4 separate regions of the Homo sapiens genome follow, and all the other regions are linked to region 4. Evidence: fine-mapped expression QTL. A gene starts in region 4. Each other region holds a variant in brackets. All regions are shown on one strand. Distances are from middle to middle. Region 1 overlaps BCR (BCR activator of RhoGEF and GTPase). Region 2 overlaps BCR (BCR activator of RhoGEF and GTPase). Region 3 overlaps BCR (BCR activator of RhoGEF and GTPase). Region 4 holds the start of BCR (BCR activator of RhoGEF and GTPase).

What was found. PIP is the estimated chance that this variant, and not a neighbour inherited with it, causes the effect. A credible set is the group of variants that fine-mapping cannot tell apart.
Region 1: its variant is the best candidate, but not a certain one, in a credible set for the expression of BCR in whole blood (INTERVAL, PIP 0.72).
Region 2: its variant is the best candidate, but not a certain one, in a credible set for the expression of BCR in whole blood (INTERVAL, PIP 0.62).
Region 3: its variant is the best candidate, but not a certain one, in a credible set for the expression of BCR in monocytes (Fairfax 2014, PIP 0.76).

The regions. Positions count from the first base shown.
Region 1 is chr22:23,317,425-23,325,716 of GRCh38, forward strand. BCR (BCR activator of RhoGEF and GTPase) reads left to right here. Exons shown (of 23, transcript NM_004327.4): 23 at 1-613. It also overlaps the pseudogene POM121L11P and the pseudogene RPS10P30. Among named protein-coding and RNA genes, the nearest start is that of LINC02556, 5.0 kb to the right of the region's middle. The variant G/A (reference allele first, on the strand shown) is at 4,304.
Region 2 is chr22:23,199,048-23,203,047 of GRCh38, forward strand. All of the region lies in intron 1 of BCR (BCR activator of RhoGEF and GTPase), which reads left to right. Among named protein-coding and RNA genes, the nearest start is that of BCR, 21 kb to the left of the region's middle. RefSeq lists an enhancer at 1-866 and a silencer at 2,294-2,470. The variant C/G (reference allele first, on the strand shown) is at 2,450.
Region 3 is chr22:23,308,914-23,312,913 of GRCh38, forward strand. BCR (BCR activator of RhoGEF and GTPase) reads left to right here. Exons shown (of 23, transcript NM_004327.4): 17 at 511-570; 18 at 1,411-1,520; 19 at 2,784-2,923; 20 at 3,974-4,000. It also overlaps the pseudogene POM121L11P. Among named protein-coding and RNA genes, the nearest start is that of LINC02556, 16 kb to the right of the region's middle. The variant G/C (reference allele first, on the strand shown) is at 2,110.
Region 4 is chr22:23,174,350-23,182,577 of GRCh38, forward strand. It overlaps BCR (BCR activator of RhoGEF and GTPase), which reads left to right and starts at 6,160. Exons shown (of 23, transcript NM_004327.4): 1 at 6,160-7,890. The coding sequence starts at 6,612. It also overlaps a transcript of RSPH14 not described here and the pseudogene BCRP8. RefSeq lists enhancers at 2,020-2,119, 5,080-5,890 and silencers at 2,507-2,606, 6,011-6,250, 6,321-6,590, 6,611-6,690.

The DNA of each region.
Region 1 (8,292 bases), 140 kb after region 4:
TCAGCGACCATTCAGCCCTGCGCAGGAACACGTGTTGCTTAGAAAAGCCAAATCCAGCCTTGTCTCTGCCTCCTCTGGTCTCATGATGTGCATCTGTTACCTTGAAACTGGAAACCAGTCTATCAATGTCTGTGCCAATTTTTTATTCCCTCCCCAACCTCCTTCCCCATACGACTTTTTATTTATGTAGGATGTGTGCTGTCTAATGATGGGATGACCACACTTTTCCATGTTCTAAAAGTGCTCCTCTCCCGCAGGGTCCCAGGGCTGGTGGTTGCTTTGGGTCTACAGCTACGTCTTACCCACCTCCTGCCTCAACAGCCTGTGTGGTGGCAAAGCCGGTGTGGGGCTGGGGAACGCAGCGTTCTCCAGGAGGGGGACCTGGCTCTCCTTCTGCAATGCAGGCGAAGGCCTAGATGCCAGTGTGACCTCCCACAAGGCGTGGCTTCCAGACTCCCCGGCCGGAAGTGATGCTTTTTTGCCTTGGGCCCTGGGTTTGAAGCAGCCTGGCTTTCTCTTGGTAAGTGGCTGGTGTCTTAGCAGCTGCAATCTGAGCTCAGCCACCTACACACCACCGTGGCCGACACTTTCATTAAAAAGTTTCCTGAGACGACTTGCGTGCATGTTGACTTCATGATCAGCGCCGCTGGGAAGAACCCCTGAGCCGGTGGGGTGGGGCTGGAAGCAGCAGGTGCAGTGATAGGGCTGGGTGCCCAGGAGGCCTCAGTGCTCAATCAGGCCAAGGTGGCCAAGCCCAGGCTGCAGGGAAGGCCGGCCTGGGGGGTGTGGGTGAGCACAGGCAGGCACCAGCTGGGCAGTGTTAGGATGCTGGAGCAGCATCCGTAACCCCACTGAGTGGGGTAGTCTGGTTGGGGCAGGGACCGCTGTTGCTTTGGCAGAGAGAGATGATCCCCACTGGGGAGAGGCTGTTCTGACTCTGCAGGTGGGACAGGGACAGATGGCCACCAGGGTGACCCGGCTGGTCTTCCTTTGCTATGCTAAGCCCTGGGACATGGAGGATTCCTGCCACCCTGGGCCCGGGTTCTTACCTGTGGCCACCGCTCTGGCACGAGCCCCTCAGTCTTGGGTGGTTTCTGCCTGGTCCGGGATTTGGTGTTGCTGCTGAGTCCAGCCTTTCCACCACCTCCGCATGGGCCGTGGGTGTTGTCAGCTGCCTCCCGCCTTGGCTTCAGTAGCTCACCCAGCTTACAGGGGAGCTGCCCTGGGCTGGAGATGGGCATGCACCCTGGGTCCTACTTGAATGAATGCAGCTTGAGGAGAGCCGGCCATATACACTGGGCCACAGGTTACCCTCGGCAATGCCCACAGCTGTCAGCCTGAGCCTCCCCAGGAGAGCAAGGCTCACACGACAAAGGCTGCCCGTGGCCAGTGAGGTGGCTGAGCCCAGCCAGGACCTTTCTCGGACTCCCGGGATGTGGCTCTGCTCGTGAGCTGCCTGGTCAGCTCTCTCGGGGTGAGAGGGGCTTGTCACACGGGCGCCTGCCTGCAGTGTGACCCTTCTCAGCTTCTCTCAGCAGCCCTGCCTGCGGAGTGTCACCGCCACCATGATCATTTCCCTGACACTGCGAGGGTGGGGGGACGTCCTGGGTAGAGACAGGGCCCGTGGCAGCAGCAGGCTCAGGGGAGCCCTGCACTGGTGGACTGGGGACCTGGTGGAGACCACGCCAAGGGCTGGACAAGGGGACGAGCCTCCACCCTGGCCTCTCCGCAGGCCTCAGCAGCCCCTCCCACAGGCAGAAGGGTTGACACTGGGTTCTGCCCTCACTGCAAGAGCTGCAAGTGCCACGTGCTGTTCTGCCCAATCTGGTGTCTGCAGGTGAGGAAAGGACTGCCGCTGGCCCGTTTCTGAGTGTTCAGCACCTAAGGGTGACAGCACTGTCTGTCCCTACCCTCCGGGTCCTGTTTGAAGATCAAACCCATGCTCACAGGCCGATATTTTTTTCTTTTAGAGACAGGGTCTCACTTTGTCACCCAAGCTGGAGTGCAGTGGTGCGATTATAGCTCAATGCAGCCTCCAATTCCCGGACACAAGGGACCTTCCTGCCTCAGCCTGCCAAGTAGCTTGGACTATAGCTGTGTGTTTTCTTATTATTTTGTAGACATGGGGTCTGGCTATGTTGTCCAGGCTATTCTCAAAATTCCCAGCCTCAAGCAATCCTCCCGCCTCAGCCTCTCAAAGGTTGGGATTACAGGTGTGAGGCAAGGCACCCAGCTCAGCCACAGAGCCCTATTGCATCTCTCTTACTAAGAGCAAGAGCTGACTTCCCCCTCATCCCCATTCCAGAGTGTTGGGGCTGTGTTCAGCCGAGGCCAGGCCACTGGCATGGGCCCAGGGAGCGGGATCATTCACTGCTGCCCCAAATCTGAGATCATTCCACCTTGACAAGACTTCCTCATCCAATCCCTTTACTTGACAGCTGGGGAAACCAGTGCACACAGAGCACCCCCAGCTCAGTCAGGGTCTCAGAGCTGATCCATGAGCGGAGGCTGAGATCCTGGGATCTTGTCCCCCAGCCTCCCTGCAAGCTTACTCCCTTTCTTCTAGAAGAGATGGGGCCAGACCTCGACCAGCAGCCCTGGCCTGGACATGACTGTGCTCATGCAGGTATTGAGGCTGAGATGCCCCGGCATCACATTTTTTTCTTTCTTTTTTTCTTTTTTTTTTGAGACGGTGTCTCACTCTGTCACCCAAGCTGGAGTGCAGTGGAATGATATTGGCTCACTGCAACCTCTGCCTCCCGGTTAAAGTGATTCTCCTGCCTCAGCCTTCCAAGTAGCTGGGCCTACAGGCTTGTACCACCACGCCTGACTAATTTTTGTATTTTTACTAGAGACGGGGTTTCCTCATGTTGGCCAGGCTCGTGTCGAACTCCTGACCTCAGGTGATCCACCTGCCTTGGCCTCCCAAAGTGCTAGGATTACAGGCATGAGCCATGGCATCACTTAAACGTAGTGAGAGGCCGGGCGCAGTGGCTCATGCCTGTAATCCCAGTACTTTGAGAGGACGAGGCTGTCAGATCACCTAAGGTCAGGAGTTCGAGACCAGCCTGGCCAACATGGTGAAACCGTGTCTCTACAAAAAAACAGAAAAAAATATCCCTGCGTGGTGGTGAGTACCTGTAGTCCCAGTTACTCAGGAGGCTGAGGCATGAGAATCGCTTAAACCTCGGAGGCGGAGGCTGCAGTGAGCTGAGATGGCGCCACTGCACTCCAGCCTGGGTGACAGAGCAAGACTTTGTCTCTAAATAATTAAATAAATAAATACGGCCGAGCATGTGCCTTAGGCCTGTAATCCCAACACTTTGGGAGGCTGAGGCAGGTGGTTCATGAGGTCAGGAGCCCGAGACGAGCCTGGCCAAGATGGTGAAACACTGTCTCTACTAAAAATACAAAAATTAGCCAGCTGTGGTGGCAGGCACCTGTAATCCCAGCTACTTGGGACACTGAGGCAGGAGAATCGCTTGAACCTGGAAGGCAGAGGGTGCAGTGAGCCAAGATTACACCACTGCACTCTAGCCTGGGCGATGGAGCAAGACTCCATCTCAAATAAATAAATTAATAAATACAGAGCAAGATTCCATCTCAAATAAATAAATGTACACCTGTAATCCTAGCACTTTGGGAGGCTAAGACAGGTCGATCACCTGAGGTCAGGAGTTCGAGACCAGCCTGACCAATATGGCAAAACTCCATCTCTACTAAAAATACAAAAATTAGCCGGGCGTTTTGACGTTTGCCTGTAGTCCCAGCTACTCGGGAGCCTGAGGCGGGAGAATCACTTGAACCTGGGAGGCGGAGGTTGCAGTGAGCCAAGATGGGGTGACTGCAGTCTAGCCTGGACAACAGAGAAACTCCGGCTCAAAAGAAAAATATAACTTCATAAAAACGAAGTAGGAAGAAACAGAAAACCTTGTCTAGATCTAGAACCATTAAAGGAATTGAATGTTTATTTTAAAATCTGTATCCCATCCAGTCAAAAATCTCACAAAAAACAAAACCAAAGAAAAGCACCTGGCCCAGATGATTTTATAGATAAGTTCAGCAAACATTAAGAAGAACAGAAAGTCTTTATCTTCTACAGAATTTTTTTAAAATAATTTATTTATTTATTTATTTTTGAGAGGAAGTCTCGCTCTGTAGCCCAGACTGGAGTGCAGTGGCATGATCTCTGCTCACCGCAAACTCCGCCTCCCAGGTTCAAGCGGTTCTCCTCCCTCAGCCTCCACAGTAGCTAGGATTACAGGTGTGCCTGGCTAATCTTTTGTATTTTTAGTAGAGACGG[G/A]GTTTCACCATGTTAGCCAGGGTGTTCTCGGACACCTGACCTCAGGTAATCCACCTGCCTCGGCCTCCCAATGTGCTAGGATTACAAGCACGACCCACAGTGCGCGGCCTACATAATTTTTTTTTTTTTTTTTGAGACGGAGTCTCGCTCTGTCGTCCAGGCTGGAGTGCAGTGGCGCGATCTCGGCTCACTGCAAGCTCCGCCTCCCGAGTTCAGGCCATTCTGCTGCCTCAGCCTCCCGAGTAGCTGAGACTACAGGCGCCCGCCACCACACCTGGCTAATTTTTTGTATTTTCAGTAGAGACGGGGTTTCACCGTGTTAGCCAGGGTGGTCTCGACCCCTGTCCTCGTGATTCGCCCGCCTTGGCCTCCCAAAGTGCTGGGATTACAGACATAAGCCACCACACACGACCCCGGCCTACATAACCTTACAGAAAAAGAAGCAAATGGAATTCTCCCCAACTCATTGTGAATTTAATATAAGCTTAAAACCAAACCAGACATAAATAGTACAAGCAGGCAAAAGTATAGACTAACTTCTTATGGACATATATGCAAAAATGCTAAATAAAATATTAGCAAATAATCCAGCAATGGATTAAACATGTATCATGACCAAGTTGGGGTTTTCCTAGGAAACTAAGATGATGTAATAAAAGAAAAAACTATTAAAGTAGTACAAACTATCAAAGGAAAAAACCTGTATGATCATTGCAACGGGTTCATTTGCGACATAATATAATTTTTTTCTTTTTTTTTAAGTCTTTTTGGCTGTAAGTTTATTCAATGCAAAATAATCTTCTCCAATTTTACTGAGGTGGCTGACGGCGTCCACGACCAAATCTGCCTCTAAACTGGAATTCGGTTGCTGACCCAGCCGCAGCCTCGGCTTTCTTGTTGGCACCAGGGGGCATAGCATTCCCTCTGTAGGTATCTCTGTCGGCTTCCCCTCTCGTTGAGTCTTGCAGGTCGCTCACCCTCCAGACCTTTAGACTGAGGCCTGCCAGTCCATGGACGGCTGCGGCGTAGGGTGGCAGGCACAATCTCCAGGGGCAGATGAAGGTAATCACGGAGATACTGGATATCCTCATTGGTAAGGTACCAGCAGACATGACTCCAGGCAAACTGTTCCTTCATGTAGTAGCCTCGGGACTTGAAAGACTGCATGGCCTTCATGACATGAAGGTTGGGCACATTCTTCCTTTTTTTTTTTTTTTTTTTGAGACGAGTCTCACTCTGTCGCCCAGGCTGGAGTGCAGGGCCATGATCTCGTCTCACTGCAACCTCCGCCCCCTGGGTTCAAGCGATTCTCCTGCCTCAGCCTCCTGACTAGCTGGGGTTACAGGGAACAGTGTTTTCTTTTGTCAAAAGAGCCTCTTAAGCCATTGATAATATTTCCCAAGCTTGTAACAGATACAAGCCTTTAAAGAATGACATTTGCAGTCACCCAGTAGGACATATCTTGAGATGAAATCAGAGTTGTGGGCTTTGCAGACAACAGCAGTCATTTCTGGTGGCTTCCGGGAGTGGAGGGGGACTGCAGCTTTGGCAATGTAGGTGATACCAAAAGGACTATAGTAATTTTTTCTTAGTAATTAAAAACTAGGCTGGGCGCGGTGGCTCATGCCTGTAATCCTGGCACTTTGGGAGGCCAGGGTGGGTGGATCACCTGAAGTCAGGAGTTTGAGACCAGCCTGACCGACATGGTAAAATCCTGTCTCTACTAAAAATACAAAAATTAGCTGGGCATATTGGCGCGTGCCTGTAATCCCAGCTACTGAGGTGGGTGAGGCAGGAGAATTGCTTGAACCCGGGAGGCAGAGGTTGCAGTGAGCCAAGATCGTGCCACTGTACTCCATCCTGGGTGACAGAGCAAGACTCCATCTCAAAAAAACAAAACAAAAACCAGACATAACAAGGTCGAGCTCAGTGGCTCCCGCCTGTAATCTCAGTAGTTTGGGAGGCCGAGAAGGGCAGATCACCTGAGGTCAGGAGTTCAATAACAACATGGTGAAACCCGGTCTCTACAAAAAATATAAAAATTAGCCAGGCATGGTGGCACACGCTTGTGATCCCAGAGGCTCGGGAGGCCAAGGCAGGAGAATCACTTAGGAGGCGGAGGGTGCAGTGAACTGAGGTCTTGCCACTGCACTCCAGCCTGGGCGACAGAATGAGACTCCGTCTCAAAAAAGAAAAAAAAATCCCCAGCCATAACAATATACATGTATGTTATACAATAACCAAACCAATATAGAAGGGTATATAGTGAAAGGAGAAGTATTGTTGTGGGTAAAATTGTTTCTATGAATAAATGGCTGATCCAGTATTTTTTTCCTCCAAAAAAACACCTTTTCCCCTTTGATTTAGTGTATACCACACAGAGTCGCTTAGCCGATTCAGTGACTTTTTTGATAGCTGGAGAATGCTTCCTAATGGTTGCAGGTGTGTAGGGGTTTTCTTGACATTTTCAGTAAGAAAGTGAATGTTGTGCCATAGGAAAGCTTTATCACAGGTGCACGTTGGTAGCCAACCAAATAACGTGAGTGTCAAGTACAGTATCTAGTGAGTGGAGAATAACTGTAATAATTACAATTACAGTTGTAGTTAAAGTGAAGTTTGTATCAAAATTTCTGTTTCAAAGGTGAACTTTTAGGGGGTGTATCTGCAGTGTTTCCTCCTCAGATGTGATTTCTCTGAAGCAGTGGTTCTCTATAACTGACTTGACACACAGTGCATCTGATATTTCGAATGACTTAAGTGATAGTATCAAAATTACTATCATATACATATTTAAATCACATGACTAACTTGTGTGTGGTATTATGCAAACTGCTCAGCTCAGTAAGGGAACAGAAATAAGAAAAAAAAAGGACAATATTGGGAGTCTTTTATACAATTAAATTTGTTCGATTAAAGGACTATCCTTTCTAAAAAAAAAAAAAAAAAGTCCTGCTTTCTTGGTGTTAAAATAAAGCATCTTTTATGAAATGATGGTGATAGTAAATGGTGATATACAGTAAATGTAAATAATAGCAAATACAAGGTTAGTTATCTTATTGTGATTTGTAAAAATAAAGAGAGCCGAGAATCTCGTTTTGCTGCTATTGTTTGGGAGTTCAGGAAAAAGTTCCTGGGGCTTTTGTTGTTAAGAAGATTCAAATACAAATTATTTCTTAAGAGTAAATATGAGTTTATTTTGAGGTCATTTGTCACAGTCTACTGAGAAATCCACTGAGAAAGCTTTTAAGTTTGCCTGGTATTAAAGATGTTCCTATTCTGATCATTGTTAAATAGATCTTTTCTTATTAGATATAAAATGTCAGGAGATATTTTATTTTGAGACAGAGTTTCGCTCTTGTTGCCCAGGCTGGAGTCTAATGGCATGATCTCGGCTCACCGCAACCTCTGCCTCCCAGGTTCAAGCGATTCTCCTGCCTCAGCCTCCCAGGTAGCTGGATTACAGGCATGTGCCACCACTCCTGGCTAATTCTGTATTTTTAGTAGAGACAGTGTTTCTCCATGTTGGTCAGGATGGTCTGGAACTCCCGACCTCAGATGATCCGCCCGCCTCAACCCCCAAAGTGCTGGGATTACAGGCACAAACCCCCTCACTCGGCCCCAGGAGATTTTTTTGTGTTGTGCCAACAAAATAAGCCTAGGCAGGGAAATTCCTTCTGGTGGTTGGAATTGTTAGTACTGAATAGACTAGCTGCGAGGTAAAAACCCCCATGGGGTTTTCTGTCAGCTCAGATATCATTGTGACCCCAGTCTTTTGCTGTGAAATAACATGACCATTAAGAAAGTAGCCTTAAACAACGTATTTTGGGTATGTTGAGGAGGAGGGACAATTATGATCTGTTCCAAAGTGAACATAACAGATGATCCCTGTGTCTGTGAAGCCTTTAAAATTTATAGTGCTCTTCTTCTGTTAATTTCAAGTAAGATTTAGTTATTGTGACATACTCTTTAAAAACCTGCGGTGTATCAAA
Region 2 (4,000 bases), 23 kb after region 4:
GGAGGCAGAGGTTGCAGTAAGCCAAGATCACACCATTGCACGCCAGCCAAGGCGACAAGAACGAAACTCCGTCTCAAAAAAAAAAAAAAGAATTTGGCCCTAACAAATGCAGGTTGTGATTATTAACATAAGTCTGGTTTCCTCTCTCATGGCATTTCTTTAGTGGCCAGATGGTGTGAGTGGCTCCAGAAGACTCTTCTCTTCTCTGTGCAAGAGCCAGGAAGGCTCTAGAAAGGAATGTCTGAGGAAGCATCGGAGACTGGGTCCCGCCATGCCTGTGTCATCTCCTGGCTTCCCCGGCCCTTGTGAGCCCCGCGGTTGCTTATTTATCCTGCTAAGGCCACAGTCTCAGGTTCCAGAAACTCTGGCAAGGAAGTCTGGGAAGGTTGATGGGGATGGGCTGGCGGGCTGGGAGAGGTGCTTTGTTTTCACTCCTCAGGAAGCTTGAGGCTTCTTGTGGAAGCGTCTGCTGCTTTGGGCTGGGCAGCTGCGCCCCCAGAAAGCCAGCTAGGGGTCTGCCGCCTAATACCATGGGTGGAAACTATTGCAGTCAGCTGTTGGGATGCAGGGGAAGGTATTGGTAGGACTGGGGTGCCCTGTCTCCTTTGTCCCCATGAGTGCAGGGGATAGATCTGAAAGGAGAGGGGAAAATGGATGTTTTCTTCTTTGTCTCTCCTTTCTCCCTGCTTTCAAGTCTGTGAATTAATTGGAGTCATTCCCAAGGGAGGAGGGTCACTTTATTGAATTTTAAGACAAGGCGGGGCCAGGCGCGATGGCTCACGCCTGTAATCCCAGCACTTTGGGAGGCCAAGGCGGGCAGATCATGAGGTCAAGAGACCATCCTGGCTAACACAGTGAAACCCCGTCTCTACTAAAAATACAAAAAAAAAATTAGCCGGGCGTGGTGGCGGGCGCCTGTAGTCCCAGCCACTCAGGAGGCTGAGGCATGAGAATGGCATGAACTCGGGAGGCAGAGCTTGCAGTGAGCCAAGATCCACCACTGCACTCCAGCCTGGGTGACAGAGCAAGACTGCGTCTCAAAAAAAAAAAAAAAGCAAGACAAGGCATATGACAGGGCATGATACTGACGAGACCTTGGACATCAAAGGCTGGAGCAGGACTTCCTCCTAGGGAACATCCTCAGATATGTAGATGTCACCGTGTGGGCTCAGACATCCAGGGTGGACCAGAGCCGGTGGCTTAGGTCTGGTGGTCTGTCCCTGACTGCACTTTTTTCAGAGCTGTTTTGGTTTGAAGCTCAAAGCGGGCTTTTTATTTATTTATTTAGAGACAGGGTCTTACTCCGCTGCCCAGGCTGGTGCAGTGGCACACTCACAACTCACTGCAGCCTCAACCTCCTGGGCTCAAACAGTCCCCTCATCTCAGCATCTCAAGTAGCTGGGACTACAGGCATGCACCACCATCCCCCCAGGTAATTTTTAAATTTTTTGTAGAGACAAGGTTTCACTATGTTGCCCAGGCTACAAGAGGACTTTAACTTTTTTTTAATTAAAAAAAAATTTTTTTTGAAACAAGGTCTCACTCTGTCGCCCAGGCTGGAGTGCAGTGGTGCGATCATGGCTCACCGCAGCCTTGACCTCTCCAGGCTCAGGCGATTCTCCCACCTCAGCCTTCTGAGTAGCTGGGACGGCAGGCACATGCCACCATGCCCAGCTAATTTTTGTATTTTTTTGTAGAGATGAGGTGTCTTCATGTTGCCCGTGCCAGTCTCAAACTCCTGGGCTCAAGCGATCCACCCGCCTTGGCCTCCCAAAGTGCTGGGACTCCAGGCATGAGCCACCATGCCTGGCCAAGGGGGCTTTTCAAAGGCTGGGCTGGGCTGTTCATTTGGAAAAAAGGTTGGGGATGTTTTCACTTCACCAGGACTTCTGCCAGTCAGCAGGCTGGTACATTAGGAGCCCAAGTTTTGCCTGGTGCTGGTGGACGGGTCTAGGCCTGAGAAGCCGTAGTCTCCTAGTGCTTGGTGCTGCTAAGCCCAAAGAACAGAGTGGTTACAGGAAATGGAACATTTAGTCTGGCAGAGGCCAAGGGCAGCAGGTCCCTACTCTGGCTGCCCATGTAGTTAAAAAGTCACACACGTGCGCAGCTGGTCTGATTAATGAGTTTGTTTTTTGATGTCACAGTTTCTGGGCACAGCAGAGCTGGCTCCTCTGCTTGGGGTCTCCTCAGGCTGCAGTTGAGGTGTTGGCCGGGGCTGCATTCCCTGCTGGGGCTTGGGGTTCTCTTCTAAGCTCACCTGGGTTGCTGGCAGTGCTTACCTCCTGGCAGTTGTAGGACTGAGTCCCCATTTCCTTGCTGGCATTGGCTGGAGGCCCCTTCTAGAGCCCACCCTGTTCATAGGCAGTTCACACACAGCTGTTTGCTTTTCTCTTCTCAGTGAATCTGGTTTTTTTGTTTTTTCGTTTTTGAGACGGAGTCTTGCTCTGTT[C/G]CCCAGGCTGGAGTGCAGTGGGGCGATCTTGGCTCACTGCAAGCTCCGCCTCCTGGGTTCATGCCATTCTCCTGCCTCCGCCTCCTGAGTAGCTGGGACTACAGGCACCCACCACCATGCCCGGCTAATTTTTTGTATTTTTAGTAGAGGTGGTTTCACCATGTTAGCCAGGATGGTCTCGATCTCCTGACCTTGTGATCCGCCCTCCTCGGCCTCCCAAAGTGCTGGGATTACAGGTGTGAGCCACCGCGCCCGGCCAAGTCTGGGTTTTTTGAAAAGCTCCCTGGGTGACTTGACTCTAGCCCTCAGGGTTCAGACCCTTCGGTTTCTGGGAGTCCGTGGACATTGGCTGCAGGTTTTGAAAGGCTGGCATCTCAAGAGGGGAGCAGATGAAGAGTCATGGGGAAGGTTCCTGTGCAGTATGAGGAAGGTTTAATTTTCTTGCCAACTTTTGAGATAATTATGTGTAAATCTTTTTTATATAGTTAAGATGTTGCTGTGTAGTTGGGTGTCCGGCCTTAGTTAATGTGAACGTTTCCATGTATTAGTAAATCTTGTGTAAATATTATTTTTAAGGGCCATATTATTACTTTGTAGTGGAGTTATGGTTTAATTTATCTAATTTTAATGAATTTTTGTTGGACATTTCGAGTGGTTCTTTATGCAGCTGGTTAGTATAATGTTTCAGTGAACTTCTCTCTCTTTTTTTAAATAGCTTCACTGAGGTAATTCATGTACCATACAATTCAACCCTTTAAAGCAGCCAATTTAATGGGTTTTGGTATATTACATTATTACTTTTTAAAAATTATGGTGAAATATATATACAAATTTGACATTTTAACCACTAAAAATTAAAATTATGGTAAAATAACATAAAATTTACCATTTTTAGCCGCACAGCTAAATGGTGTTAAGTATATTCCTGTCATGCACCCATCACTATCATCCATCTCCAGAACTCTTTCCACCTTGCAAAACTGAAAATCTGTACTCATTTCCACCCATTAAAGAACAGTGCTTCTTCCCCCACGCCCAGTCCCTGTAACCACCATTCTACTTTCTATCTCTAGGAATCTGACGACTCTAGAAACTTTATTTAAGTGGAATCATGCAGTATTTGTCTTTTTGTGACTTATTTCACATCATGTCCTCAAAGTTCATCTGTGTTTTACTGTGTTTCAGAACCCCTTCCTTTTTAAGCTTGAGTAATAATTCAATTGTTTGTGTGTGTGTGTGTGTGTGTGTGTGTATATATATATATATTTAATCTATCATTCATTGATGGGCACTTGGGTCATTTTAACCATTTTTAAATGTACAGTTCAGTGGCATTAATTACATTCAGTGAATTTTTTTGTGGGGTTTTTTTTTTGTTTGTTTTTGAAACAGGATCTCGCTCTGCCATCTCACTCTGCATCTGCACTGGTGCAGTAAGAGCTCACTGCAGCCTTGACCTCCTGTGATCCTCCCACCTCAGCCTCCTGAGTAGCTGGGACTACAGATGCACATCACTACACTCATCTGTCGTTTTTTTTCTTTTTGTAGAGA
Region 3 (4,000 bases), 130 kb after region 4:
TTTCTGGGTCCTTCTGGGCCTGATTCTGAACCATGGGACTGGTGTGGCCTGCAGGCTCCTCCCGCCACAAGCTGTTCATGGTGCAGGGGGAGAACAGTGTCCACAATTCCCCAGACAGCAGCTGTGGATGCCAGGCCCCCAGGAGTTGTTACTGAAGTTGCTGCTGGACAGCTCACCTTTCACTGAGCTCCACATAGCACCCGTGGTGATGGAAGCCGGATGGAGAGAGCCTGCCAGCCTGCACATCAGCTCCCAACTGGGCGGGGCAGAGGGAGGAGGGGGTGGGGACCCCAGGCAGCAGGGCTCTGGGAGCAGTGGGGCCCTGGGTTCCAGGGGTGTCTGGCAGGCCCCTCCTTACTCTACCTCTGTTGGCCTCTGGATGGAGGTGCTGGCCGCAGTCGGGCTCTGCCTCTGACTAAGGGTTGGGGAAGTGGCGGGTGTGGGCTGCTGCCCCGTGGGGCCTCTGAACAGACCCCAGGGCCTCTGCCAATCATGACTCCTTCCTTTCAGCTGGACCCGCAGGCCCTGCAGGACAGAGACTGGCAGCGCACCGTCATCGCCATGAATGGGGTACGTGTCCGTGGGACTCTCCTGGTGCCCACTTCCCCCAGAAGGATAGGGTGGCCTCTGTTCATTTCAAATCAGTCAGAGGTGGCTGAGCCTGAGGCAGCATCTGAGAGGGAGCCTGGTTGGAGAAGGGAGGGCCCCCAAGAGCAGAATCACCATGCACGGGAATCGTCATTCATTGGCTGGAATGCAGTTGCCAGCCAGGCCCTGAGCATCCCTCCTCAAACAAAGGTCTCATGGCACCACCAGGACAGGTGGGGCCTCCACTCAGGGACCTGGGGGCTGCCCATAGAAATGGAGACCCCTGATTTGTCTTTAGGTACCCCAGAAAGGTTTAGACCTTAAAAGCAATGACACACCCAAAAAGGCCCGGGTATAAATGGTAAAATGTTAATATTTGAGATTCTTGGCTTTTTCTTACATTATTCTGTCTTTCCTACTTAATTTTTAATTGTTACTAAGAAAGAGAAAGCCAGGCACAGTGCACCTATAGTCTCAGCTACTCTGGAGTCTGAGGCAGGAGAATCACTGGAACCCAAGAGTTCGATTACAGCCTGGGCAACATTGCAAGCTCCTATATCTAAAAAAAAGCAAGCAAGCAAGAGAAGCAGCGGGGATTTTAGGAGGTGCTTCTGCAGAAACCAGTCGTTTACATCATCTTCAACAATCCTGGCTCTTGCTGAAGTAGACTAGGGGCTTCCCCGAGGGGCGGCTCCACCTCATGCTGAGACCTCTGCATGCCTTGGGGGTGGAAATATTTGATGAGACTCCCAGGGGTCCTTGGGACCTTGGGCTATGAGGACCAGAAGGATTAGAGGACTGTGCCCCTTCTCCCTACTGTAGATCGAAGTAAAGCTCTCGGTCAAGTTCAACAGCAGGGAGTTCAGCTTGAAGAGGATGCCGTCCCGAAAACAGACAGGGGTCTTCGGAGTCAAGATTGCTGTGGTCACCAAGTGAGTGGGGAGGGGCTTGGGCTCACGCACTGAGGGTGCCTGTCCCTTCAGCTGTTTCTGCAGAAAAGAGCATGTGTGGGTCTCTCCTCTCTGTGCGTGGCCACTGCACGGTGAGGTCAGGCCCCAGGGAACACGGCGTCTTCAGCTACCTCCTGTGTTTCCTGCAAACCAGCTCAGGAATGTCCTTGCCACCTGGCTTGGAAGCAGTAGGCTGGCTCCAGGAACTGCCCAAGTGCAGGGTTTTCTGCCCTTGCTTGGAATTTATCACGGTCCCAGATTCCTGTTGAATGGCCGTAACCCCTGCCCCTTTGTCACGAGTCAGTTGCCAAGAGAAGCCTGTTTGGTTTGAGAGCAGTTCATGCAGACATAGACCACTTCCTCTGAGAATTCATTTGCTTCCCCAGGATGGAATCTGGCTGGGCCTCTGACCTTGCTGGTCACGTGGGCCGGGGCCTCCATCAGTCATACCCTGGACTCCTATCTGTGTCTAAACACCACGCCCCACCCCCAACTGCACGGCAGCCACTCGCATAGCACTCTGGGAGGGCTGTGGGCATGAGCAGCGAGGACTCCATCAGCAGCTCCCCCA[G/C]ATAAGCCCTGCTAATGAGGGGGCTTGCGAAGCAGCTTTGATGTGCTGGTAAATCCAGGTGCAAAACAGAACTCAAGTTAAGGCCTCCGCACAGCACTGCGTTCTAACTGTGAAGGATTCTTACTCTAGTGTCCTGTGTGGAGGTATTGGAATTGTCCATTGCTAAGACTCAGAGGAGAAAAGCACTTAGCATCGCAGGACTTGGAGCACCGGTGCTGAGGCAACCCTTCATTCATTCGTCGGATGTGTGTTAAGGCCCAGGCCCAGGGCAGGGGTCAGGGATTCTCCTCTCACACAGCACGTGGGTGGCAGGACCAACACCGGGTCTGACCTCCCAGCCGGGGGTACAGGCTGCTAACCCCAGGCCTGGAATCTGTCAGATGCCCTTCCCGTGCTGACTTGACATAGACAGGCCTCCTGACCTTCCCGCAAAGGTCATGTGTGATTCGCAGGGGTTCTGGCCGCTTGAAAGGTTCCTGAGAAAGTACATGCCATGAGGACAGAGCTTGCAGAGGGAGGACAGGCATGCAGAAGGCTCTGTGTGCAGCCCCAGACCTGGGTACCTTCGTCACCGTCCTCACCCCACCTCCGGGTGTGCAGATATGGAGCAGGTCTCCTGTGTTATGGCCCAAGCAGGGCTGTTAGGACACTGAGAACATTCCCTCCTCCCGCAGGAGAGAGAGGTCCAAGGTGCCCTACATCGTGCGCCAGTGCGTGGAGGAGATCGAGCGCCGAGGCATGGAGGAGGTGGGCATCTACCGCGTGTCCGGTGTGGCCACGGACATCCAGGCACTGAAGGCAGCCTTCGACGTCAGTGAGTGTTGGCCTGCGCAGGACGGGATGGAGGTGTGGGCAATGGTGTCCGCGATGAGATCTCAGAGTGCTCCATGGCCCAGGCATGTCACATCCTTCTCTGTGTCTTTTCTTCATTTACTGTGTTATTATTTTTAAAAAAGAGAAGACAAGAGTTGTAGAAAAAGCCTCTGTAGAAACCAGTTTTTAAACCATCCTAGCCATGCATGCCACTTGCTGGGGTAGGCCAGGGGTTTCTGCAGGGCCTTGGCCTTCCTGCCTTGGGGTTGGACAGGAGGTGGAAGCCCAGGACTCAGTGCAGTCTGTCCCCTGCCATGTGTGAGGATGCGGCAGGCAGAGGGCACTGATGAAATTCAGCCCAGGCTGGGGCTGCAGCATCTCTGCCTCCATCTCACCAACCCTCACAGGCTATGAAGGACCTGGAACTGTCACAAATGCCAGGGGAGGGCACTGAGACCCCAGAGGGTCCCTCCCAGCATCTTCAACAGGATTTTGTGCCTGCAGACCCTTCTTTGGGGCACACACCACCAACCCTGACCAGGACCCCTAGAATGCCCAGCATCCCTGGGAGGGCCCTGTGGTAGTTTCAGCTCCCTCTGGGGGCCCAGAATGAACCTGGCCTGTGGTGAGGATGTAAGCACCAATGGCCAATTGGGTCCAAAGGAAGACACCGGTTCAAACACTGAAACCAATCAGATTCTCCCACGGCCTTCCTGCTATCAGACGACACTGGTGCAGGGGTGGTTGCTATGTACAGGGCAGAGCCACCCAATCCCCACGCAGGCGCTGTGTCCTGCCACGCTGGCCTCCTCCTGGCCATCACATCAGGCCAAGCAGGGGAGAGGAATGGGAATGCCCACGCACCCCTATCAACTCTGCAGACACAGAACCATGCACAGCTCTTGGGAGGAGTCAGATGAGCTGCTCAAAGCCCAGGAGGGACCCGCACAGTGGTCAGCATGGCAGGGACAGTGCTTTAGCCAAGGCAGGGATGGTGGGAGACTCACTCGGGATCCTCAAGGAGGCCGCTGCATTTCCGTGCTCTTTCCAGATAACAAGGACGTGTCGGTGATGATGA
Region 4 (8,228 bases):
GCTAGGATTGCAATAATGCACTCCAGCATGGGTCACAGAGCGAGACCCCCATCTCAAAAAATATATAAGTAAATAAATAAATAATAGAATCATGTAACCACACTCAGAGAACAAGGGAAATTGAGGGGGAACATCACCAAAAACCCCACTTCTCTGTTATATTTTAGTTTCGAGATTTAAAAACATAATATGGATTGGGGATGCTGGAAATACTTGTTATCTAATTGTGGCGATGGCTTCAAAGTATACACAGATGTCAACACTCATCAAATCGCACTCCTTATGCGCAGTTTATGACACTTCAATTATACTTCAATAAAGTTGTAAAAAAAAAAAAAGCTGAGTGTGGTGGCTCACGCCTGTAATCCCAGTACTTTGGGAGGCTGAGGCAGGTGGATCCCCTGAGGTTGGGAGTTCGCAACCAGCCTGACCAACATGGAGAAACCCCGTTTCTACTAAAAATACAAAATTAGCCAGGAATGGTGGTGCATGCCTGTAATCCCAGCTACTCGGGAGGCTGAGGCAGGAGAATTGCTTGAACCGGGAAGCGGAGGTTGTGGTGAGCTGAGATCACGCCATTGCACTGCAGCCTGGGCAACAAGAGCAAAACTCCGTCTCAAAAAAAAAGAAAAAAAGATTGTAAAAAAAAAATTTTTTTTTTTTTTCAGACAGAGTCTCGCTCTGTCACCCAGGCTGGAGTGCAGTGACGCAATCTTGGCTCACTACAAGCTCCGCCTCCTGGGTTCACGCCATTCTCCTGCCTCAGCCTCCGAGTAGCTGGGACTACAGACGCCCACCACCACACCCGGCTAATTTGTTTTTGTATTTTTAGTAGAGTCGGGGTTTCACCGTGTTAGCCAGAATGGTCTCGATATCCTGACCTCATGATCTGCCCGCCTCGGCCTCCCAAAGTGCTGGGATTACAGGCGTCAGCCACGGCACTTGGCAAAAAATCTATTTTTTTTTAAATTACAAAAGATAGGTGGGTTGGCTTGTTTGTTTGTTTTTTCTTGAGACAGAGTCTCACTCCATCACCCAGGCTGGAGTGCAGTGGCGTAATCTCCCCTCACTGCAACCTCCGCCTACTGGATCCAAGCAATTCTCCAGCCTCCGCCTCTGGAGTCACCATGCCCAGCTAATTTTTATATTTTTGGTAGAGACAGGGTTTCACCATATTGGCCAGTCTGATCTTAAACTCCTGACCTCAAGTGACCCGCCCGCCTAGCCTCCCAAAGTGCTGGGATTACAGGCGTGAGCCATAGATAGGCGTTTTATTATGAAGAATTTAGAAAAGCATGATGATTTAGAAAATAAATGTCACCCACTGCTCATAGACAGCTGTGGAGCCCTTGGTGAAGCCCCCTCCTCCTGCTGAACCCCTCAGAAGGCTCCTGGGGTAGCGCTCAGGGCCCATCCAGCCTCCAGCTTCTGCAGCCAAGTTCCAGGGCCCACCTCTGCCCTGCCGGCCTCATGATGCCAGACTCAGCTAGCATCCTTCCCACTGAGGGAACAGCAGCTATCAGCATGAGGCTCTGCCTTCTTCACTGAGTCTTCTCCGCTCAGACTCCAGGGTCCCCATCATCTCCCTGGCCAGTCCCTTCTCAGTCCCTCTGCCTCTACTTCCCCCCTAGTCCAGTAACTGTCCCTTCTCCACCCAGCCTCACGCAGGCAGGGGGAGAGTCTCCAGCCCCGTGGCAACAAACAACATCGATTCACTGGCAACACTCCACTTTCTCTCTGAGGTCTTCATTGCTCCTTGGTGCAACAGGGTCACCCTCTGCCTGATGCCTGCTCATGGATGGGCTATGCGGACCTGAAGCCCTGTGCAGGCACCTCTGCTTGCCTGTTGCAGTCACCATCCCAAAGTCATCCCCATGAGCTGGCCTCCCTCTGTTGGGGAAAAGCTGGGTGTGGGGAGAGAAGCTGAGGCAGGGCTTGCATGTCTGCTAGACTTGCTGGCTCCTTCCTTCTAGCACTCTCATTATCTCAAGTAGCCATATGTTTCAAAGAAAATGCTAAACTGTCACAGCTGTAGCTCATTTGCTTGATACACCGCTTCCTTTCAATCCCCACATCCTCACCACCTGTTTCTTTGTTTGATCACCAATAAATAGCATAGGCTCCTAGGGCTAGAGGCCTTTGCAGCCTCTATACTAGCGTTGGCCCCCTGGTCCCACTTTCTCTCTTGCCTTTTCTCACTCCTTTGACTCCGCCAGACTTTGTCGCCCCCACGGCCTGGTGTTGGGTCTGATCACCCCAACATCCCTCATTCCCCACACCCACTCCATCTACAAGTCCCATGAGTTTTACTTCCAGAATGCTCCTGAATTCTAACCCCTTCTCTGGGGTACCTTGCTTCTGCCCTATTCTGGGTCACCAATGCCTTCCTCATAAACAATTGCCACAATCCCCAACCACTCCCCCTACTCCCACCTCCCACGCCCAACCTTCCATGCAACAGACCCCAGCAAGTCACCCCGCTTCCTGTGCGGTTGAGTACAGCAGCCACGGTGGCCATTGAAACTCACTAACACGAAACCAAACATTCAGTTCTTCAGCTGCCCCAGCCACGTTTCAGATGCTCAGTAATCACACGGGGCAGCTCGTGGCTGCCACATTGTGCAGCACAGATTACAGAACATGCCCATGGTACTGGCAAGTTCTATCGGACAGTGCAGGTCTAGAACCTTTGAGCAGCTTTTCCTTGCATTTAGAATAAAACCCAAACTTTGTGCAGGCCTACAAGGCCCTGCCTCACCTCTGATCCCACTTCCTACTGCCTACACCAGCCTCATCTCCCAACCTGGCTGCTCCTCAAACAGAACTTTGAAGCCTCCTTGTCCTTTGCCTACCTGGTCCTTGTCCTTAGGACCAGCTCAGGCATCACCTCCCCTGGCAAGCCTTTCCCCGAACTGTGCCTTCTCCCACAGGACACACACACCTTTGCTATAGCCGGGCTGTGAATGCCTTATCACTTCCTCCCCCATACACAGGCATCGCTCTCGGTGACCTATCTGCCCTCCAGGCCATGCACACATCTGGTTCCTCATTCCACCAGACCTGGTTGAGCACTTACTCTGAGCTCACTATATGAGAGACATAGGGGAACAAGACAAACAGGTCTGTGACCTTGCAGAGTTTAGATCTAGTTGGAACAGACACTGAGTGGGGGATTACAGAGTGTTATGTGTGTCTAAACCCCATGCCCATGCCCATGCCCTGCTGCATTCCTCCCTAGGGAGGGATGGATGATAAGAAAACTCTACAGGAAAGGCCCAGAGGCTCAGGATAGGGGTGCTTTCAGGGAAGTCCTGAGGAGAGAACAGTGTCCTTGGGGCCAGAAGAGGCTGTCCCACAAGGGAGAAAGCCACTATCTGGACGTGTCCTTGTGCCTAACAAAAAGCCATTTGCTATGCCAAGAGAACAGAGCATGCAAACTCAAACTAAACAGCTTCAGAGTTTACTTAGAGACAGGGTCTTGCTCTGTTACCCAGGCTGGAGTGCAGTGGCGTGATCCTAGCTCACTGAAGCCTCAAATTCCCAGGCTCAGTGCAATCCTCCCACCCCAGCCTCCTGAGCAGGTAGAACTACAGGCACGAGGCACCATGCCAGGCTAATTTTTAAATTTTTTTGTAGAGATGGAGTCTCACTATGTTGCCCAGGCTGGTCTTGAACTCCTGGGCTCAAGCGATACTCCTGCCTCGGCCTCCCAAAACACCAGGATTACAGGCATGGGCCACTGTGCCTGCCTTTATCATACCCATTTTAAAGAAGAGGCCATTGAGGGCTGGGTGCAGTGGCTCACACCTGTAATTCCAGCACTACAGGAGGCCAAGGCGGGCAGATCACGAGGTCAGGAGTTCAAGACCAGCCTGGCCAACACAGTGAAACCCCGTCTCTACTAAAAATACAAAAAACTAGCTGGGCGTGATGGCAGGCGCCTGTAATTCCAGCTACTTGGGAGGCTGAGGCAGCAGAATCACTTGAACCCAGGAGGCAGAGGTTGCGGTGAGCAGAGATCACTCCACTGCACTCCAGCCTGGGCAACAGTGTGAGACTCCGTCTCAAAAAAAAAAAAAAATAGGCCACTGAGGATGAGAGCACTGCTCAGTATGGCACTACTGGGATTCCAGCCCCTTTAGTGGCCAGGGCATCATTTGCATCTCAGTTTCCTCACATGCAAAATGGGCTATTTGCAGCCTGATGGGAAGGGGATGAGAAGGTCCGCTGGGTCCAAGGGACCAGGATGGCAGGAGGTTAGCAAGGCCTGCAGAGGGCAGCAGTGAGCTGCGCACCGCCCACCCAGCCTAGAAACTGGGGCCCATGGGTTTTCCAGGGCAGGAATGTTCTCCAGGGGCACTAATATTAACAGGCAATCACGAAATCGACCCCTACACACCATTTATCAGGTTGTGTTTTATGTTTGCCCCATCTGGGCATTTTATGCAGGATGCTCTCAACATTTTGTACCGTGGCCCACAGGACTGGGTGGAAGACAGGACAGCTCAGAGCAGGGAGTGAAACAAAATCTTTGATGGTTCTCTAGGGAAGCCTGGAAATCTGAGACAGGGCAAAGAGCAGGGAGTCTGATGAGCACAAAATTAAAATACCCAAACCAGCCTGCCGGGTCAGGGGAAAAGGAAGCAGGATTGGGCACATGAAGAACAGATGACAAAACTGAGGCTCAGAGAGGCTGAGAGAGACACTGCTGAGGTCACACAGCCAGGAGTCGGCAGGAAGCCCTGAACCCAAGCAGGGCTGGCCTGGCTACTAGCCTGGGCTCAGTCCTTTAGATTGGACTTCAAAGTATCTGCTCCAGATGACGCTGGCATTGGGAGGAGGGCATGATAATCCCTAACATCCACACAGGGACAACAGCACTTGGAGGCAGATGTGCTTCTCACTTCAAGGAAACTGAGGCAGAGAGGGAGAGGTGGTCAGGACTCAAGCCCAGTAATTCATTTGCCAAATCCTGTTTCCTTTTCCCCCAACCCAGCGGGCTGGTTTGGGTATTTTCAGTTTGTGCCCATCAGAGTCCCTGCAGAGTGCTCTCCACTGTGTCTCAGATCTCTGTGTCCCCAGAGAACCATCAAAGGTTTTGTTTCACTCCCTGCTCTGGGCTGTCTTCCACCCAGCCCTGTGAACCTCAGTGCAGGTTGGCCGCCCCCTTAGAGGGAGGCTAATCAGGGAAGTTCTGAGTCAGGTCGTCCTGGAAAAACTACATTGACCTCTGGAGCTCAAGAGAGGCCAGGGGACAAACACATGGCTCAGCACACAGGAAGGCAGGTGTGGGTATTGAGTGACCTGAGGGAGAAATCCCTATTTATCATCCATCATGTGGTCCTGCTGTGACAAACCCGTGTGGCAGCCACCCACAGCAGATCCACAACGTGAGAGGCCCGCTGAAACAAGGGTGCTGGCATTGGTTACTCAGCCTGGCCCTCCCTGCCTTGCGGGGTGACCTGCCTGGTCCTGGCCTCTCTGTGAGTTGGGCCCTGCTGGGTGGTCCCTAGTGTGCCCAGCCCTGAGGCTGGTGAGAGGCCAGGCTGTGAGGTGTGAGGAACTTACCTGCGTCTCCATGGAAGGTGCCCTCCGCATCGTTGGGCCAGATCTGCCTGGTCTTGCAGATGCCCACGATGGTGGCCTCTGACACGACGACTGGGCAGTGCCGGTGACGCTTATGGCACTGCGGCGTGGTAGGGGCAGAGGGGGGAGGTTGCTTCTGTCGGAGGACTGCTGCGAGTTCTGCCAGAGAGAGCAGCTCTTGTCCCGGAACATGAGGTAGGTGGTGGGGCTTGGGGACACGCGGCTGGACTGGCCGGAGAAGTCCTCCTGGCCGGAGGGGAGCCAAGTGTTCCTGTTCCAGGACTGCAGAACTGGCCCAGACCTCTGTATTGGAAAGGTCTTTATGGACCAGGGAGTCCGGTGTCTTTTTTACGGGGGACCCCTGGGCTGCGAGTTGCACAGTCCAATTCGCTGTTGTTAGGGCCTCAGTTTCCCAAAAGGCACAGGGACGGGGGGAGGGTGGCGGCTCGATGGGGGAGCCGCCTCCAGGGGGCCCCCCCGCCCTGTGCCCACGGCGCGGCCCCTTTAAGAGGCCCGCCTGGCTCCGTCATCCGCGCCGCGGCCACCTCCCCCCGGCCCTCCCCTTCCTGCGGCGCAGAGTGCGGGCCGGGCGGGAGTGCGGCGAGAGCCGGCTGGCTGAGCTTAGCGTCCGAGGAGGCGGCGGCGGCGGCGGCGGCACGGCGGCGGCGGGGCTGTGGGGCGGTGCGGAAGCGAGAGGCGAGGAGCGCGCGGGCCGTGGCCAGAGTCTGGCGGCGGCCTGGCGGAGCGGAGAGCAGCGCCCGCGCCTCGCCGTGCGGAGGAGCCCCGCACACAATAGCGGCGCGCGCAGCCCGCGCCCTTCCCCCCGGCGCGCCCCGCCCCGCGCGCCGAGCGCCCCGCTCCGCCTCACCTGCCACCAGGGAGTGGGCGGGCATTGTTCGCCGCCGCCGCCGCCGCGCGGGCCATGGGGGCCGCCCGGCGCCCGGGGCCGGGCTGGCGAGGCGCCGCGCCGCCGCTGAGACGGGCCCCGCGCGCAGCCCGGCGGCGCAGGTAAGGCCGGCCGCGCCATGGTGGACCCGGTGGGCTTCGCGGAGGCGTGGAAGGCGCAGTTCCCGGACTCAGAGCCCCCGCGCATGGAGCTGCGCTCAGTGGGCGACATCGAGCAGGAGCTGGAGCGCTGCAAGGCCTCCATTCGGCGCCTGGAGCAGGAGGTGAACCAGGAGCGCTTCCGCATGATCTACCTGCAGACGTTGCTGGCCAAGGAAAAGAAGAGCTATGACCGGCAGCGATGGGGCTTCCGGCGCGCGGCGCAGGCCCCCGACGGCGCCTCCGAGCCCCGAGCGTCCGCGTCGCGCCCGCAGCCAGCGCCCGCCGACGGAGCCGACCCGCCGCCCGCCGAGGAGCCCGAGGCCCGGCCCGACGGCGAGGGTTCTCCGGGTAAGGCCAGGCCCGGGACCGCCCGCAGGCCCGGGGCAGCCGCGTCGGGGGAACGGGACGACCGGGGACCCCCCGCCAGCGTGGCGGCGCTCAGGTCCAACTTCGAGCGGATCCGCAAGGGCCATGGCCAGCCCGGGGCGGACGCCGAGAAGCCCTTCTACGTGAACGTCGAGTTTCACCACGAGCGCGGCCTGGTGAAGGTCAACGACAAAGAGGTGTCGGACCGCATCAGCTCCCTGGGCAGCCAGGCCATGCAGATGGAGCGCAAAAAGTCCCAGCACGGCGCGGGCTCGAGCGTGGGGGATGCATCCAGGCCCCCTTACCGGGGACGCTCCTCGGAGAGCAGCTGCGGCGTCGACGGCGACTACGAGGACGCCGAGTTGAACCCCCGCTTCCTGAAGGACAACCTGATCGACGCCAATGGCGGTAGCAGGCCCCCTTGGCCGCCCCTGGAGTACCAGCCCTACCAGAGCATCTACGTCGGGGGCATGATGGAAGGGGAGGGCAAGGGCCCGCTCCTGCGCAGCCAGAGCACCTCTGAGCAGGAGAAGCGCCTTACCTGGCCCCGCAGGTCCTACTCCCCCCGGAGTTTTGAGGATTGCGGAGGCGGCTATACCCCGGACTGCAGCTCCAATGAGAACCTCACCTCCAGCGAGGAGGACTTCTCCTCTGGCCAGTCCAGCCGCGTGTCCCCAAGCCCCACCACCTACCGCATGTTCCGGGACAAAAGCCGCTCTCCCTCGCAGAACTCGCAACAGTCCTTCGACAGCAGCAGTCCCCCCACGCCGCAGTGCCATAAGCGGCACCGGCACTGCCCGGTTGTCGTGTCCGAGGCCACCATCGTGGGCGTCCGCAAGACCGGGCAGATCTGGCCCAACGATGGCGAGGGCGCCTTCCATGGAGACGCAGGTGAGTTCCTCACGCCACGTGCGTGGGCACACCTGCACGGGGGAGGAAAACCATAGACGAGTAGGGGATACAAAACAGAAGTTGGGAGGGAGGAGTGGATAGTTTTGAGTGTATCAGGTGCACTTGTGGTTCACGCGGATCCTGCACCCGAACAAACTCCATCCCCTCCTCCTTCCTGAATGCATACTGTTAGTGTTTGGAATGGAATTGGGTTGAGGATGGTCTTGTGAGGGATGGGAGGTGGTTTGTTCCTTTGGTTCTAGAGCAATGTGTTTGTGAAGTACAGCTTGTGAGTTGAAGGAAGATGCTTCAGGCAGTAACCTCCTTGCTATGTGCTC